3 separate regions of the Homo sapiens genome follow, and all the other regions are linked to region 3. Evidence: fine-mapped expression QTL. A gene starts in region 3. Each other region holds a variant in brackets. All regions are shown on one strand. Distances are between the middles of the regions. Region 1 has its middle 25 kb from the start of FBXL2. Region 2 has its middle 47 kb from the start of UBP1. Region 3 holds the start of FBXL2 (F-box and leucine rich repeat protein 2).

What was found. PIP is the estimated chance that this variant, and not a neighbour inherited with it, causes the effect. A credible set is the group of variants that fine-mapping cannot tell apart.
Region 1: its variant is the best candidate, but not a certain one, in a credible set for the expression of FBXL2 in unexposed skin (GTEx, PIP 0.78).
Region 2: its variant is the best candidate, but not a certain one, in a credible set for the expression of FBXL2 in gastroesophageal junction (GTEx, PIP 0.79).

What each region holds. Positions count from the first base shown.
Region 1 is chr3:33,249,825-33,255,300 of GRCh38, forward strand. No RefSeq gene overlaps it. Among named protein-coding and RNA genes, the nearest start is that of FBXL2, 25 kb to the right of the region's middle. The variant A/T (reference allele first, on the strand shown) is at 2,864.
Region 2 is chr3:33,485,051-33,490,526 of GRCh38, forward strand. No RefSeq gene overlaps it. Among named protein-coding and RNA genes, the nearest start is that of UBP1, 47 kb to the left of the region's middle. The variant C/T (reference allele first, on the strand shown) is at 2,973.
Region 3 is chr3:33,274,616-33,279,615 of GRCh38, forward strand. It overlaps FBXL2 (F-box and leucine rich repeat protein 2), which reads left to right and starts at 2,827. Exons shown (of 15, transcript NM_012157.5): 1 at 2,827-2,900. The coding sequence starts at 2,898. LOC124909362 (a long non-coding RNA gene) reads right to left here and starts at 2,739. Exons shown (of 2, transcript XR_007095861.1): 1 at 2,553-2,739; 2 at 632-785. RefSeq lists silencers at 2,648-2,717, 2,782-2,949, 2,918-3,097.

The DNA of each region.
Region 1 (5,476 bases), 25 kb before region 3:
ATTACATTTCAACATGAGATTTGGGCAGGGACACCTATCCAAACCATATCAGATCCCCTCAAGCATTTATCTTTTGTGTTACAAACAATCCAATTATACTCTTTATTTTAAAATGTACAATTAAATTATTATTGACTATTAGTTACCCTGTTGTGTTATCAAATACTAGGTCTTATTCATTCATTCTAACTATTCTTTTTGTACCCATTAACCATGCCCTCCTCACCCCCCACCCCACAATATCCTTCACTGCCTCTAGTAACTATCCTTCTGCTCTCTATCTCCATGGGTTCAATTTTTTTTTTTTAATTTTTAGATCTCACACATAAGTAAGAAAATGCGATGTTTGTCTTTCTGTACCTGGCTTATTTCACTTAACATAGTGACCTCCAGTTCCATCCATGTTGATGCAAATGACTGAATCTCATTCTTTTTTTTGTGGCTGAATAGTACTCCATTGTGTATAAGTACCATATTTTCTTTATCCATTCACATGTTGATGGACACTAGGTCACCTCCAAATCTTGGCTATTGTGAACAGAGCTGCAACAAACATGGGAATGCAGATATCTCTTTGATATACTGATTTCAACAAGCATTTATTATCTCGCAGTTTCTGTGAGACAGGAATCCAAATGTGGCTTAGCTGGATGTTTCTGGCTTAAGGTCTCTTACAAAGCAGCAATCAAGTTGTTAGCTAAGGGCTATGGTCATCCCAAGGCCCAAATAAGGGAGGATTTACTTCCAAGCTCATTTATGTAGCTATGGACAGAACTAGGGACTGGAGACATCAATTCCTTATCACACAGGATTGATGGTTATCTATTCTTTCCATAGGGCAACTCATGATGGCAGCTGCTTCCTTGAAAGTGAGCACGAGAGCAGGAGAGACTGCCCAAGGAAAAAGTCACTGTCTTTCTGTAACCAAATATCAGAAGTGATATCCCATCACTTCTGCTGTTTTCTATTTGTTAGAAGACAGTAAGTCCAGCATATACTCAGTGGAAGAGTATAATACACAGGCCTGACCACAAGGAAGCAAGGATCATGAGAGCCACCTTAGAAACAGTCTGCTAAAGGAATGCAGTGTATTCCTGGAGCAGATAGGAAAAAAAAAAAAAAGACATAGTTGAGACAGTTGGTGGAATTTGAATGGGGTCTGTGGATTGGATGGCAGTGTTGGATCAATGTTGATTTCCTGAGCTGGAGGACTGCTTCGTGGTAACAGAGGAGAATGTTCTTGTTTGGGGGAAGCTCTAATTAGTGTTTAGGGATAATGCAGCATCATGCCAGTAAAGTATTTTATAATTATATATCTATCTACCTCTCTACTGAGCAAAAGTGAAGCAAATGTGATAAAATGTTAGCAATTAGGGAATCTAGGTTAAGGATATGTGGGAGTTCTTGTACTGTTCTTGCAACTTTTCTTTTACCATAACTTTCTGTGGGTTTGAAACCATTTCAAATATTTAGAAAAAATTCTAAAAAATAATATGAGTTAAGTAAGGGTTGAGGATAAAAGGAAGAAAAACTCATACTAGAGTTCTTGTTTTATTTGGTGGAAAGAGCGACTGATTAACTACTTTGACAGAAAAATGTTTGTGTGTTTATTTTGATATTTTAAGAGTAATTACTAAAAGTTTAGAAACAATGTGTATATCTTTCAAACAAGTAGAGGGAAAAATGAAAAACTTGTTCAATCAAACAGTAAGGAAGAAACAAGCAAAAAGACCCAAACAATAGTACCTGGAACCTATAAAATAAGTTTGCAGAAACAAGTTCAAATACAACAGTATTCATAATAAATGTGGACAGATTAAACTCATCAATTCATAGAGAGGGCATCTCATATTGCAGATACAACATATTCCTATATAAATCACGTACATAATACATAAATGCATATGTATGAAAAATTATCTATAAACTCATCTATTCAAAGACAGGGCATCTATCTATGCATGCATATATGTGAAAAATTGTTTATCTTTCTATCTATCTATCACCTAAAATCAACCTTCCAAAGGACACAACCTAGAGCAAAACAACACAGAAGCTGGGCATGGTGGCTCATGCTTGTAGTCTCAGCTACTTGGGAGGTTGAGGCAGGAGTATTGATAGACCCCAGGAGTTCAAGGCCAGCCTACATAACACAGTGAGACTCCCTTCTCTAAAACAAACAAAAACCTGGTGAAAGAAACACAGAAAAATTAATAACAAAGGAATAGAGAAAGATACACCAGATTAATAATAACGCAAGATATCTGGTAAAGTAATAAAGAGTAAATAGGATTCACGGTGAAAAATTCAGGACCAAGAGGGATATTTCATATTGATAAAATGACAAATTGTCAAGATGATATTTGTTAAGAATGTGTAGGAGCTAAAAACATATATATTTTTTAAAAGCTATTTTATTAAGATATAATTTACAAACCATGTATTTCACCCATTTAAAGTGCACAATTCAAGGGTTTTTAGTATATTCACAGATAGGTACAACCACCACCAGTCGGTTTTAAAATATTTTCATCACTCGGAAAGAAACCTCATACCCTTTAGTCATCATCACCCTACCAACCCATTCCTCCTCCAGCCCTAAACAACTATTTTCTATCTCTATAGATTTCTGAACTTTCATGTGAATGGAATCATATAATAATTGGGCTTCTGTAACTGGCTTCTTTCACTGCACAATGTTTTCAAGACTCATCCAAGTTCTAGCATGCATCAGTACTTCATTTCTTTTCTATGGCTGAACATTACGTTATGTGGATATACCACATTTTGTTTGTCTATTCATCTACTGATGGACATTTGGTTTGTTTCCTCCTTTTGGTTATTATGGATAGTGTTTCTATGA[A/T]CACTCAGATAAAAATTTTTGTATAATCATGTTTCCACTTTTCTTGGATATTTACTTACAAGAATTGCTGGGTTATATGGTAACTTTATGTTTAAGCATTTGAGAAACTGTCAAACTGTTTTCCACAGTGGCTGTACCATTTTTATATTCCCACCAGTAGTTTATGAGAGTTCCAATTTCTCCACATTGACACCAGCACTTGTTACTATCTGACCTTTTGATTCTAGTCCTCCTAGTGGGTGTGAAGTGGTATTTCACTGTGTGGGTTTTTTTTTTTTGTTTGCTTGGTTTTTGTTTTGTTTTGAGACAGTCTCACTCTGTCACCCAGGCTGGAGTGCAGTGGCATGATCTCAGGTCACTGCAACCTCCGCCTCCTGGGTTCAAGTGATTCTCCTGCCTCAGTCCCCTGAGTAGCTGGGATTACAGCTGCCCACCATCATGCCTGGCTAATTTTTGTATTTTTAGTAGAGATGGGGTTTCACCATGTTGGCCAAGCTGGTCTCAAACTCTTGACCCTCAAGTGATCCACTTGCCTCAGCCTTCAAAAGTGCTGGGATTACAGGTGTGAGCCACTGTGCCTGGTCTTCATTGTGGTTTTGATTTGCCTTTTCCTGATTAATAATTCTAAGTATCTTTTCACGTTCTTATTGGCTATTTATATATCTTTCTTAGAGAAATGTCTATTCAGAGCCTTTGCCTATTTTTAAGTTGAGGTATTTTTCCTTTTATTATTAAGTTGTAAATATTCTTTATACATTCTAGATACAAGTCCCTTATCAAATACATGATTTGCAAAAAATTTCTCCCATTCTGTGGGCTGTCTTTTCTCTTTCTCGATTGTGTCGTTTGAGACACAAAAGTTTTTCATTTTGTTGAAGCCCCATTTATCTATTTTTTCTTTGGTTGCTTGTGCTTTTAGTGTCATATCTAAGAATTCTTTGTCAAATCCCAGGTGGCGAAGATTAATTTCTATATTTCCTTCTAAGAATCTTCTATTTTTTAGCTCTTACATTTAGGTCTTTGATCCATTTTGAGTTCATTTTTTGCTTGGTGTAAGGTAAGAACTCAACTTTACTTTTGTTTTTGCATGTGGATATCTAGTTATCCCACCACATTTTGTTGAAAAGACTATTATTTTTCCTATTGAATGATCTTTACCTCCTTGCTGAAAATTGACCATAGATGTATGGGTTTATTTCTGGACTCTCAATTCTATTGCACGGACAATATAGCTTTAAATTTTATATAACACAAAAATTGACAAAGGATGCAAAAGAAATTGACAGCCACGGTGGAAGTTTAAAAAACACTTCTTGGCCAGATGCAGTAATCCTAGCACTTTGGGAAGTCAAGGTTGGAGGATTGCTTGAGGTTAGGGGTTCAGGACTAGCCTGGGCAACATGGCAAGACCCCGTCTCTAAAAAAAATTTAAAAATTAGCTGGTGGTATGCACCTGTAGTCCTAGCGACTCAGCAGCCTGAGTTGGGAGGATCATTTGACCCCAGGTGTTTGAGGTTGCAGTGAGTTATGATCACAGCGTTGTACAGATGGCAAATAAGCAAATGAAAAGATAAAGATAATATCATATATCATTAGAGAACTGCAAATTAGAACAATTATACACCACTATATACCTATTAGAATGGCTAAAATCCAAAACTTCTGGTGAGGCTATAGAGTAACAAGGATGCTCATCCATTGCTGGTGGGAGTGCAAAATGATACAGCCACTTTGGACGACAGTTTGGCAGTTTTTTAAAGAAAGCTAAATATACTCCTTCCATATGACCCAGCAATTGTGCTTCTTGGTATTTACACAAATGAGTTGAAAATGAACACAAAAACCTGCATACAAAGTTTATAGCAGCTTTATTTATAATTACCCAAACTTGGAAACAACCAATATGTCATTCAGTAGGTGAATGGATAAACAGGTACATCCACACAACAGATTATTATCAGCAATAAAAATAAAAGAGCTGTGAAACCATGAAAAGACATGGAAGAACCTTAAATGTATATTGGTAAGTGAGAGAAGCCAGTCTGAAAAGGCTCCATACTGTATGACTCCAACTACTACATTTTGGAAAAGGCAAAGGTATAAAGACAGTAAAAATGGCCGGATGTGGTGGCTCACGCCTGTAATCCCAGCACTTTGGGAGGCTAAGGCAGGCGGATCATGAGGTCGGGAGATCGAGACCACCCTGGCTAACACGGTGAAACCCCGTCTCTACTAAAAATACAAAAAATTAGCCGGGCGTGGTAGCGGGTGCCTGTAGTCCCAGCCACTTGGGAGGCTGAGGCAGGAGAATGGTATGATCCCGGGAGGCGGAGCTTGCAGTGAGCCGAGATCGCGCCACTGCACTCCAGCCTGGGTGACAGAGCGAGACCCCTTCTCCAAAAAAAAAAAAAAAAAAAAAAACCAGTAAAAAGTTCAGTATGGGGCCGGGCGCGGTGGCTCACGCCTGTAATCCCAGCACTTTGGGAGCCCTAGGCGGGCGGATCACGAGGTCAAGAGATAGAGACCATCCTGGCCAACATGGTGAAACCTCGTCTCTACTAAAAATACCTGCTAACAAAAGTTAGCAGGTCGTGGTTGTGGGCGCCTGTAGTC
Region 2 (5,476 bases), 210 kb after region 3:
TGCTATATAAGGTAACATATTCATAGGTTCTATGCATTAGGATATGGACGTTGTTGGGGAGCTATTATTTTGCCTGTCACACTCCACTACCTTCACGTCTTTGCTCAATATCCCTTTCAGTAGGGTCTTCACTGACCAGCCTTCATAAGATCGCATTATGTCTCTGCCTTTAAAAAATCCCCCTTCCTGAGCCGGGTGCGGTGGCTCACGCCTGTAATCCCAGCACTTTGGGAGGCTGAGGTGGCTGGATCACCTGAGGTCAGGAGTTTGAGACCAGCCTGGCCAACATGGTGAAACCCCATCTCTACTAAAAAATACAAAAAATTAGCTGGGCATGGTGGTGGGTGCCTGTAATCCCAGCTACTCAGGAGGCTGAGGCAGGAGAGTTGCTTGAACCCAGGAGGTGGAGGTCGCAATGAGCCGAGATGGCGCCATTGCACTCCAGCCTAGGCGACAAGAGCAAAACTCCATCTCAAAAAAAAAAAAAAAAAAAAAAAATCCCCCTTCCCCGTTTTTTTAGTGCTCACTACTATCTCATGTATGCTATATTTTTCTTATTTATCTTTTGTCTCTAACCAGAATATGAATTCCATGAGAGAACAGATTTTTGTCTACTTTTTCAGTGCTGTATTCCTAGTGCCAAGAACAATGCTTGACATTTGAATAGATGTCCAAGTACAGTTGAATATATATATTTTTAATGGAATGTAATTATATTTGTAGTATTTATTTCTCAGAAGAATAAACTTGATTGGTAACTTGAGTCAGGCTAGTTGGTATTTCATGATGATACAACATGAAATTTCATTAACAAAGGGTGTGTAATCTTAGGGATGCAGTACTGGAATTCCCTTATTGCAGTTAATACATTTGTATATAGATTTCCTATGGGAATGTGTAATGAAAAAAAGAAGCTGCTAACTGGAAGCATTAAAAGTGGAATCCATGAACTGCTTGTTAGTTGCTAAAATAAAGAATTTTGAAATCAGAGTATCATGCAATATTAAAATTTGTGTTATCATAAATAACTCTAGATTAGTGCTTCTCAAACTTTAATATGCATATGAATCATAAACTATAATGTGCATATAAATTACCTGGGAACATTGTCAAAAATGCAGATTCTTACTCAGTAGGTCTGAGGTAGGGTCTGGCATTCTGTATTGAGTTTCTGGGTGATGTTGATGCAGCTGTTCTGTGGAATAGCAAAATGTTTCATGACATTAAAACCAGAAATTTCAAAAGTAATACTTTTTCTTTTGTAGGAAAGATGTTAAAAGCTGAAGTCTGGGAATCTGAAGCAAGAATCAGTCTGATCAAATCGTACCATCATGGGTTACTGATGTGATAGGGTATTTTCTGAACTGAAATATCACTTTCCTTTGACCAAACATCATGCACTGAAGACTGACATTTGTGATGTATAACGGCTGGTTTAAACATGAAGGCAGGGAAAAAGGCAGACTGTGGAAAAGTAGACTGAGGAGTGGCGAGGGATCAAGGAAGCAGAAGAAAAGACTGGAACGCCTACTTAATTTTTTGTAGGGTGTATTTGTCTGTTTTCACGCTGCTGACAAAGACATACCTGAGACTGGGTAATTTATAAAGAAAAAGAGGTTTAATGGACTCACAGTTCCATGTGGCTGGGGAGGCCTCACAATCATGGCGAAAGGCAAAAGGCATGTCTTACATGGTGGCAGACAAGAGAGAATGAGAGCCAAGTGAAGGGAAATCCCTTATAAAACCATCAGATCTCATGAGACTTATTCACTACCACGAGAACAGTATGGGGGAAACCATCCCCATGATTCAATTATCTCCCACTTGGTCCCTCCCACAACATGTGGGAATTGTGGGAGCTATAATTCAAGATGAGACTTGGGTGGGGATACAACCAAACAATATCATAGGGTAAGACTTTCATAAATACAAATCTATATTTACATAAATGAAATTATTAATATATCCCACATGTCAAACACTCTTTCTTCTCTCTTCCTTAGTCCTCCTACCCCACCTCCATGTTGCATGTCTGCAATCTTGAATGTATCCTTGCATCTTTTCCCAAACTTAAAATCATATATCATTCACACATGCATTGATTTTTTTTGGTTATTGTTTTTGTCATCATGAACAGCACACATCTGGAAGTGCTGGTGTAATTTATCTATTTTTTAAAGAAAATCAAAGAGAGGAAAATCTTAGAAACCTTTAGAATATCCATTAATACCATTAGGCTTTTAACAAAACTGTCCCACTCTCCTGGCTCATGAGATTGCTACTTTCCAAAAAGGAGTCGCTTTTAACTCTTAGTGATTTTATCTGGTATTCTGTTCTAGACAATATCTATTGGCTTTTTTTTTTTTCTTTTTTTTTTGAGAAGGTGTCTCGCTCTGTCACCCAGGCTGGAGTGTAGTGGCGTGATCTCGGCTCACTGCAACCTCCACCTCCTGGGTTCAAGCAATTCTCCTGCCTCAGCCTCCCGAGTAGCTGGAACTACAGGCACCCACCATCATGCCTGGCTAATTTTTGTATTTTTAGTAGAGATGGGGTTTCACCATGTTGGCCAGGCTGGTCTCGAACTCCTGACCTCAGGTGATCTGCCCCTCTTGGCCTCCCAAAGTGTTGGGATTACAGGCATGAGCCACTGTGCCCGGCCAGCTTTTTTTTTTTTTTTTTTTTTTGAGACAGAGAGTCTCACTGTGTGGCCTAGCCGGGAGTGCAATGGTGCAATCTTGGCTCACGGCAACCTCCGTCTCCCAAATTCAACTAATTCTTGTGCTTCAGCCTCCTGAGTAGCTGGGATTACAGGCGCGTGCCACCATACCCAGCTAATTTTTTTGTATTTTTAGCGGAGACGGGGTTTCGCCATGTTGGCCAGGCTGGTCTTGAACTCCTGTCCTCAAGTGATCGGCCTGCCTTGGCTTCCTTCCAAGTGCTGGGATTACAGGTGTGAGCCACTGCATCCGGCT[C/T]TATTGGCTTTTTACAGTGGAAGGTGAGGATTCAACTCTACATACCTCCTGCATCATCACGGTTATATCAACTTTTTGGTTAAGTCAGCTTCCATTATTGTTATGTGTGTTTAAATATTAGTCATACATGAGGATATAGTGTATTGTGATACAGCCTTTGCTTTTCATTTGCTTTATTGTGAAGTTTACCTATGTTAATTCACTTCCCAAATCTGAAGAAGTACCCTCAATGTATCCACTCATCAAGTAAATCCTCCTCTTTCTTTCCCTTGGAGACCTTCCTCCTAGAATCAACTATACCCAGTTCTCATCTGGGCTGGCTACTCCTCCATCAGGATGTTGTATGATGTCTTCCTGAGACTCTCTTCACCATCCAGTCTTGAAGACAGACAAGCAAAGCGAGAAAGGACAATTGGGAAAGGATGATGTAATCAGAAGGATCAGCAGTCTCAGTGAGCTGCTGGAACATTGGGAATTGGAGGTGAGGGAGCTGCAACCACGGAGCTCTTGCTGCCCTGACCAGCCCTGCTTTAGGTTATTCAACATCTACCTCCAAGACAAATGTTGTTTGAGTTGCATTGTGAGGCCTCATTATATTAATGCTTCCAGTAAAAAAGAGGATATAGAAACTGCATCTTCTTCTTTAACAACTATGAATATTACTTTACTTGAGTACTTACCTAGGTCGCATATGTACATTTTTAGAAACTCAGTATTTTCATGCACCAGTCATTCAAAAGCAATTTTGAAATGCCATAGGATTTTTTTTAAGGTCTTAATGGACACTCATATTCATAAAGAGGGAAAAATCTTAAAAATGTTCATGTAGAATAGCTAGGGCATTTATAGCACACACAGAGATTAAGTTTTCTATCTCTGGCCTCAGACAGTCTGGGTTTAAAGACTGGTTACACAACTTGTAGGCTACAAGACCTTGGGCAAATCAGTTAACTTCTCTAAGTCTCAGTCTCTTCTTCTGTAAAGTAGGAATGATGATAAAATAATAATAATAATAACACCTGCCTTAAATATTCTAATTAAAAGAAGTAATGCATCTAATGTACTTGGTGCAAGACCACATAGGAAAGAACAATTAGCATAAAGCATTTATTATGTATTTTTTTGCTGAAATATAAAGCAGCAACAAAAGTCTGAATGTGAAAAGCCATAGGACAATTTTATTGTTTTTAGGGGATTTGGATATTCTTTTTTTTTTTTTTTTCTCGCTCTATTGGCCAGGCTAGAGTGCAGTGGCATGATCTCGGCTCACTGCAACCTCTGCCTCCCGGGTTCAAACAATTCTCCTGCCTCAGCCTCCCAAGTAGCTGGGATTACAGGCGTGTGCCACCACGCCTGGCTAATTTTTGTATTTTTAGTAGAGACAGGGTTTCACCATGTTGGCCAGGCTGGTCTCGAACTCCTGACCTCAGGTGATCTGCCCGCCTCAGCCTCCCAAAGTGCTGGGATTACAGGCATGAGCCACCCTGCCCATCCAGGATTTGGATATTCTAAAGGCTCACTGCACTAATTCATTCCTGTATTCGTTTATTAAATGATTATTAAGTACTTATTATGTTCCAAGTATTGTTCACAGTGCTGGAAACACATAAATGGTTAAAACAACAACAACAACAAATGCCTGTGTGGCATTACTCACAATAGCCAAGAGGTGGAAGCAATCCAAATATTCATCAGTGGATGAATGGATAAAGAAAATGTGATAAATACATATAGTGGAACTGTTATGCAGCCTTAAAAAAGAAGGAATTCCTGTCATGTGCTACAATATGAATGAATCTTTGAAGAAATTATGGTTAAGTGAAATAAGCCAGTCCCAAAAGGATAAATACTATATGATTCCACTTATATGTAGTATCTAAAGTAGTCAAAAATCATGAAAACAAAGTTGAAAAGTGGTTGCCAAGGACTGAGGGAAGTGGGAAAGAGGAATCAGTGCTTTTTTTTTTTTTTTTTGAGATGGAGTCTTGCTCTGTCGTCCAGGCTGTAGTGCAGTGGCATGATCTTGGCTCCCTGTAAACTCTGCCTCCCAGATTCAAGCGATTCTCCTGCCTCAGCCTCCTGAGTAGCTGGGATTACAGGTGCGTGCCACCATGCCCAGCTAAATTTTGTATTTTTAGTAGAGACGGGGTTGCACCATGTTGGTCAGACTGGTCTCGAACTCCTGACCTTGTGACCGGCCTGCTTCGGCCTCCCAAAATGCTGGGATTACAGGCATGAGCTACTGTGCCCGGCCGAATCAGTATTTTATGAAAGTATAGAGATTCAGTATTCTAAGATAAAAAAGTTCTAGAGATCTGTTGCAAAACAATGTAAATATACTTAACACTCGAACTTTACACTTAAAAATGGTTAAGATGACAAATTTAATGCTATGTATTTTTTATCACAATTAAAAAATTAAAGCGTGCAATTGGCAAATGAACTGCTGGGTTTACGATCGTTAAGGTGGAACAGTTCAGGGCCAGGCTGGGGAAATAACTGAG
Region 3 (5,000 bases):
GAATATTCCATATAAAGGAAGCAGATATTATTGAGGCTTTTAAGTACAAAAGTATTTGATGCGTTTGAGGAACCTCAGGAAATAAAAGTGTGGTTAGTGTGGCGTGAATGAGGGAAGAGTGACAGGAGATGGAGTTGGTGCAGTGGGCAAGGCCTCCATCGTGTACCATTTTGGTAGACCATGGAAAGCATTTGTATTTTTTTCTTTTTCTTTTTTCTTTTTTTTTGGACACAGAGTCTTGCTCTGTCACCCAGGCTGGAGTGCAGTGGCGCGATCTCCACTCACTGCAACCTCTGCCTCCCGTGTTCAAGTGATTCTTCTGCCTCAGCCTCCCAAGTAGCTGAGACTACAGGCGCCCGTCACCACACCTGGCTAATTTTTGTGTTTCTAGTAGAGATGGGGTTTCACCATGTCAGCCAGGCTGGTCTCGAATTTCTGACCTCAGGTGGTCCTCCCACCTCGGCCTCCCAAAGTGCTGGGATTACAGGCGTGAGCCACCTTGCCCGGCCTGTATTTTTTTTTAAGTGCTATGAGAAGCCACTGAAAATGCTGCTATTGTGTAGGATGCAGGAGGGAAGACATGGGGTCATAGTCCACTTGTGCTGCTATAACAAAATACCACAGGACTGTGTAATTTATAAACAAAAGAAATTTATTTTTCATAGTTCTGGAGGCTGGGAAGTCTAAGATCAATGGGCTGGCCGATTTGGTGTCTGGTGAGGGCTGCTCTGCTTCCAAGATGGTGTCTTGTTGCTGCATCCTCTGGAGGATTGCTGTGTCCTCACCTGGCAGAAGGGATGAAAAGGCAAAAAGGGGCTGAATTCACTCCCTCAGGCTCTCTTATAAGGGCATTAATCCCATTCATGAGGACAGAGCTCTCACGGCCTACTCCCCTCCTTGAGGTCCTCTTCCTAAAACTGTCACATTTTATATGTTTTCATATAAAGTTTGAAGGGGACACAAACATTCAAATCATAGCACATATGGAGATGAATTTGGGTGAGACAATAGTGGTTGTGAGGTGGAGATGTTGTAGAGTGGATAGATTGAGAATTTAAGGTGGAGTCAAGAATATGTGATAATGGACTGGAAGTGAGGTGTGAGGAAACAGCGGAATCAGGGACAATTCCTAGGTTTTTGTCTTAACAATCAAGGGGATAGTAGGGACTTTCGCTTTGAGAAGACTGGGGAGTAAGAAACTTGGATCAAGAGGTTAATTAGGGCCATATTACGTTGTGATGTCTATTAGGCACTCCGGGGGAGATGTCAGGTCAGCTGTTGAATATGATTCTTCTTCACAGATTTTTTTTTACACTTTAAAATTCTTTTTCTCTTTTTTGTAACTTTTTTTGTTGTTGTTTTTATTTTGTCATTTTTTTCTGCTTCTAACACACCAAAACTCACTCCTTCCTTCCTTCCTTCCTTCCTTCCCTCCCTCTCTATTTCTTTCTTTTTTTTTTTTTTTTTGAGACAGAGTCTCACTCTGTTGCCCAGGCTGGAGTGCAGTGGCACGATCTTGGCTCACTGCAAGCTTCACCTCCTGGGTTCACGCCATTCTCCTGGCTCAGCCTCCAAGTAGCTGGGACTACAGGCACCCGCCACCATGCCGGCTAATTTTTTGTATTTTTAGTAGAGACGGGGTTTCACCGTGTTAGCCAGGATAGTCTCAATCTCCTGACCCCTTGATCCATGGGCCTCGGCCTCCCAAAGTGCTGGGATTACAGGCGTGAGCCACCGCGCCCGGCCTTTCTCACTCTTTCTTTCTTTCGAGTCAGGGTCTTGCTATGTTGCCCAGGCTGGTCTCAAACTCCTGGCCTCAAGCAATCCTCCTGCTTCAGCCTCCCAAAGTGCTGGAACTACAAGTGTCCCATCGCACTGGGTCCTTCTTCATAGAGTTAATGGACTAGATTTCAGGATATCTAGAGTTCCCTTCAACCATATTAAAAACATTCAACAAATTGCCAGTTGATTTAATGAATTAGACAACATGCATAGAATGCTATTCCATTAAGTGGTATGCAAAGATAATAATTTTTTTTTTTTTTTTGAGACGGAGTCTTGCTCTGTCGCCCAGGCTGGAGTGCAGTGGTGTGATCTCAGCTCACTGCAAGCTCCACCTCCCGGGTTCACGCCATTCTCCTGCCTCAGCCTGCCGAGTAGCTGGGACTACAGGCGTCCCCCACCATGCCTGGCTAATTTTTTGTATTTTTAGTAGAGATGGGGTTTCATCGTGTTAGCCAGGATGGTCTTGATCTCCTGACCTCGTGATCCGCCCGCCTCGGCCTCCCAAAGTGCTGGGACTACAGGCGTGAGCCACTGCGCCTGGCCCCAAGATAATCATTTTTAATCTAAAAAAGTAGATTATAAAACAGTTACCTATGGTTTGCCACCATTTTTAAGAATACAGTATATTATAACAACTCATTGGAAGCTTGAAGCAGATAGAATGGAATCTGAGCAGTAGCTACTTCAGGTGCTGGGGTGAGTGTCGTTTTATCCTTTTAAATTCTTGTTATTGGTAATTTAAAATGTTTTCAATAATCATGCATTACCTGTATAACGTTTTTTTTAAAAAAAAAAAAATCCATGGTCTCTTTCAGCTGGGCAGTCTGCGGCTGGGTAATCTGTCAGGTGAGGGACATCAAGGTGATCAGACTGAGAGGATGGACCAGATACGAAGTGGGAGAGGCGAAGAGGCCCAGTTCCAGGGCCGGGGGCGAGGGGTGGGCGGTCCAAAGGGCACCGCCCCTGCGGGTCACGTGCTCGCCGACCACCAATGGCCGCCTCCGAGCCCACCTTGGGGACGGGGCGGGGCGCCTGGCTGGCGTCACCAGGACAACGGGCGTCGCCGGCGCCGTGTGACTTCGGGCTGTGGGCTCGCTCGCGGCTCTTCGGCCATGGTGAGTCTGGGACCCGCGTCTGCCTAGCTGCCCCGCCCTACCCCTACCGGGCTGGGTCCGCACGCCGCCGCCCGCTAGGGTCGGGCAGGCGGCGCAGGGGTCGTGGAGAGGCCGGGCCGCGGCCTGCGAGGCTGCTGGGCAGGGCAGGGCTGGGCGGGCCCGGGGAGGGGTAACCTGGGGGATTCAGAGCGCCCGCCTGCCGGGGGGCGACCGCGATGCAGCGTTCCCTGCCGCTGGAGTCGGGGTGACAGCCCGGACCCCCACCCAGTGGGCCGCCGGACGACGTGACGCTGTTTGGCCCGAGAGAGCCTGGGAAGCCACCCAAGGAGGGTGTGGTTAAAAAAAAAAATCTTGTATATGGATATCATATGTATTTATATTTACACTAAAGCAGTCTATATGCCTCCAGTTTTGTTTCTATGCAGTTATGTGTAACTAATATAAGACATATATCTTCCTTTCAAAATCAGCATTCTGATAGGTTTTTTAGCACGTGGAAATTAAAATTTTTGATTTTAGAGACCCCTCCCCTCCTTTCTAAAAAATAGAGGGCATTAAGCTGGAGGGTTTTTTTTTCTGAGTGCCGCACCCTCACTAAGGGATTTAATTAATTCATAATTAGTGCATTGTAAACGTCTTAAATCATTACCTTTGTTCAGTTAACTTCAGACGGCGTGGGCATAACACCTGGCCCCCTTTAAGCTCGTTTTAAAAACGTTGCTCGGTTTCACTCGGCGGAGGTGCTGGCTTGAACAGACAAGTTCAGAGAATTGCCAACCGAAGGCATAATTCTCCAGAGGCCTTCACGGGGTGTAAGAGAAGAGAGGAGCTAGACTCCTTGCTTGGGGACACACCCTTGGTATAGAATACTTGAGGAGGTATGGCGGTAGGTGTAGGTAATAGGGAAATACTTAGTTTTGTTTTAACCATGAGTAATTAAGTGGAGATTTTCTCCTTATCTGCAGGAGTTTAGTGGAAGTGCTGATGAGCTGAGAATGCAGGGTGCTCCCCGAGTGCCAGCTGGCCTCATGGAGAAAAAACTATCATTAGGAATCCTGGCTGGCTCAGTTTTTTTCTTAATAACCAAGGAGAGGGATGGTGGTGGGAGGTGGATGGTGTCTCTCATTGACTCTGGAAAAGCAACTTCCAAATGTGTGGCATTATTGCTGGCAGGAGAAAAACATCACCCATAAATCACAGTACCATGTAATGCCTTTATTTTGTGTATGTTTCTTTTTTAAATTGCGAATTGCTTTTTAAGTGACAAATTAATGGAGCTGGCAAGAGTTTCAGAAACTGAATTTTATGAAGATATAAGTGTTTCAAATATTGCAGTAATTTACTGTAATATGTTATATGTGAGAAAAGCCCTAACAATTGTAGCAAGGAGAAAGAATATCCAGGAATTAATTTTTCACAGCTCTCTGAAGTCTCATATTCCTCCTGTCATCCATTTTCCTTTATTTTTACTTCTTCCACTTCTTTCGTTCTGACCCACAGCCCACCCTCATTCACTATTGTGAATTTTAGAGTTTTACTTTAAAATAAAAGCATTTACTGTAGTTTTGTATTAGTGGTTGCTTTGCTGAACTTAATAATGCTTTGCTTTTTGTTTGTCTTTAAGCATTAAGAATTTAACTCACAGGAGCTTAATTGATTGATAAGGTGTCCAGGCTTCCATGGAAGTGGGGAATGGTTGGTACAGGAGGGAGAGGGATGAAGCGGCTGCATATATATGTCATCCCCAAAACTGTATTCTTTTTTTTTTTTTTTGAGACGGAGTCTCGCTCTGTCGCCCAGGCTGGAGTGCAGTGGTGCGATCTCGGCTCACTGCAAGCTCCGCCTCCCGGGTACACGCCATTCTCCTGCCTCAGCCTCCCGAGTAGCTGGGACTACAGGCGAGTGCCACCACGCCCAGCTAATTTTTGTATTTTTAGTAGAGATGGGGTTTCACCATGTTGGTCAGGATGGTCTCCATCTCTTGACCTTGTGATCCTCCTGCCTTGGCCTCCCAAGCTGGGATTGCAGGCTTGAGCCACCATGCCTGGCCCCCAGAACTGTGTTCTAAATCACATTACACTTCCTTAACTGCTTGAATCT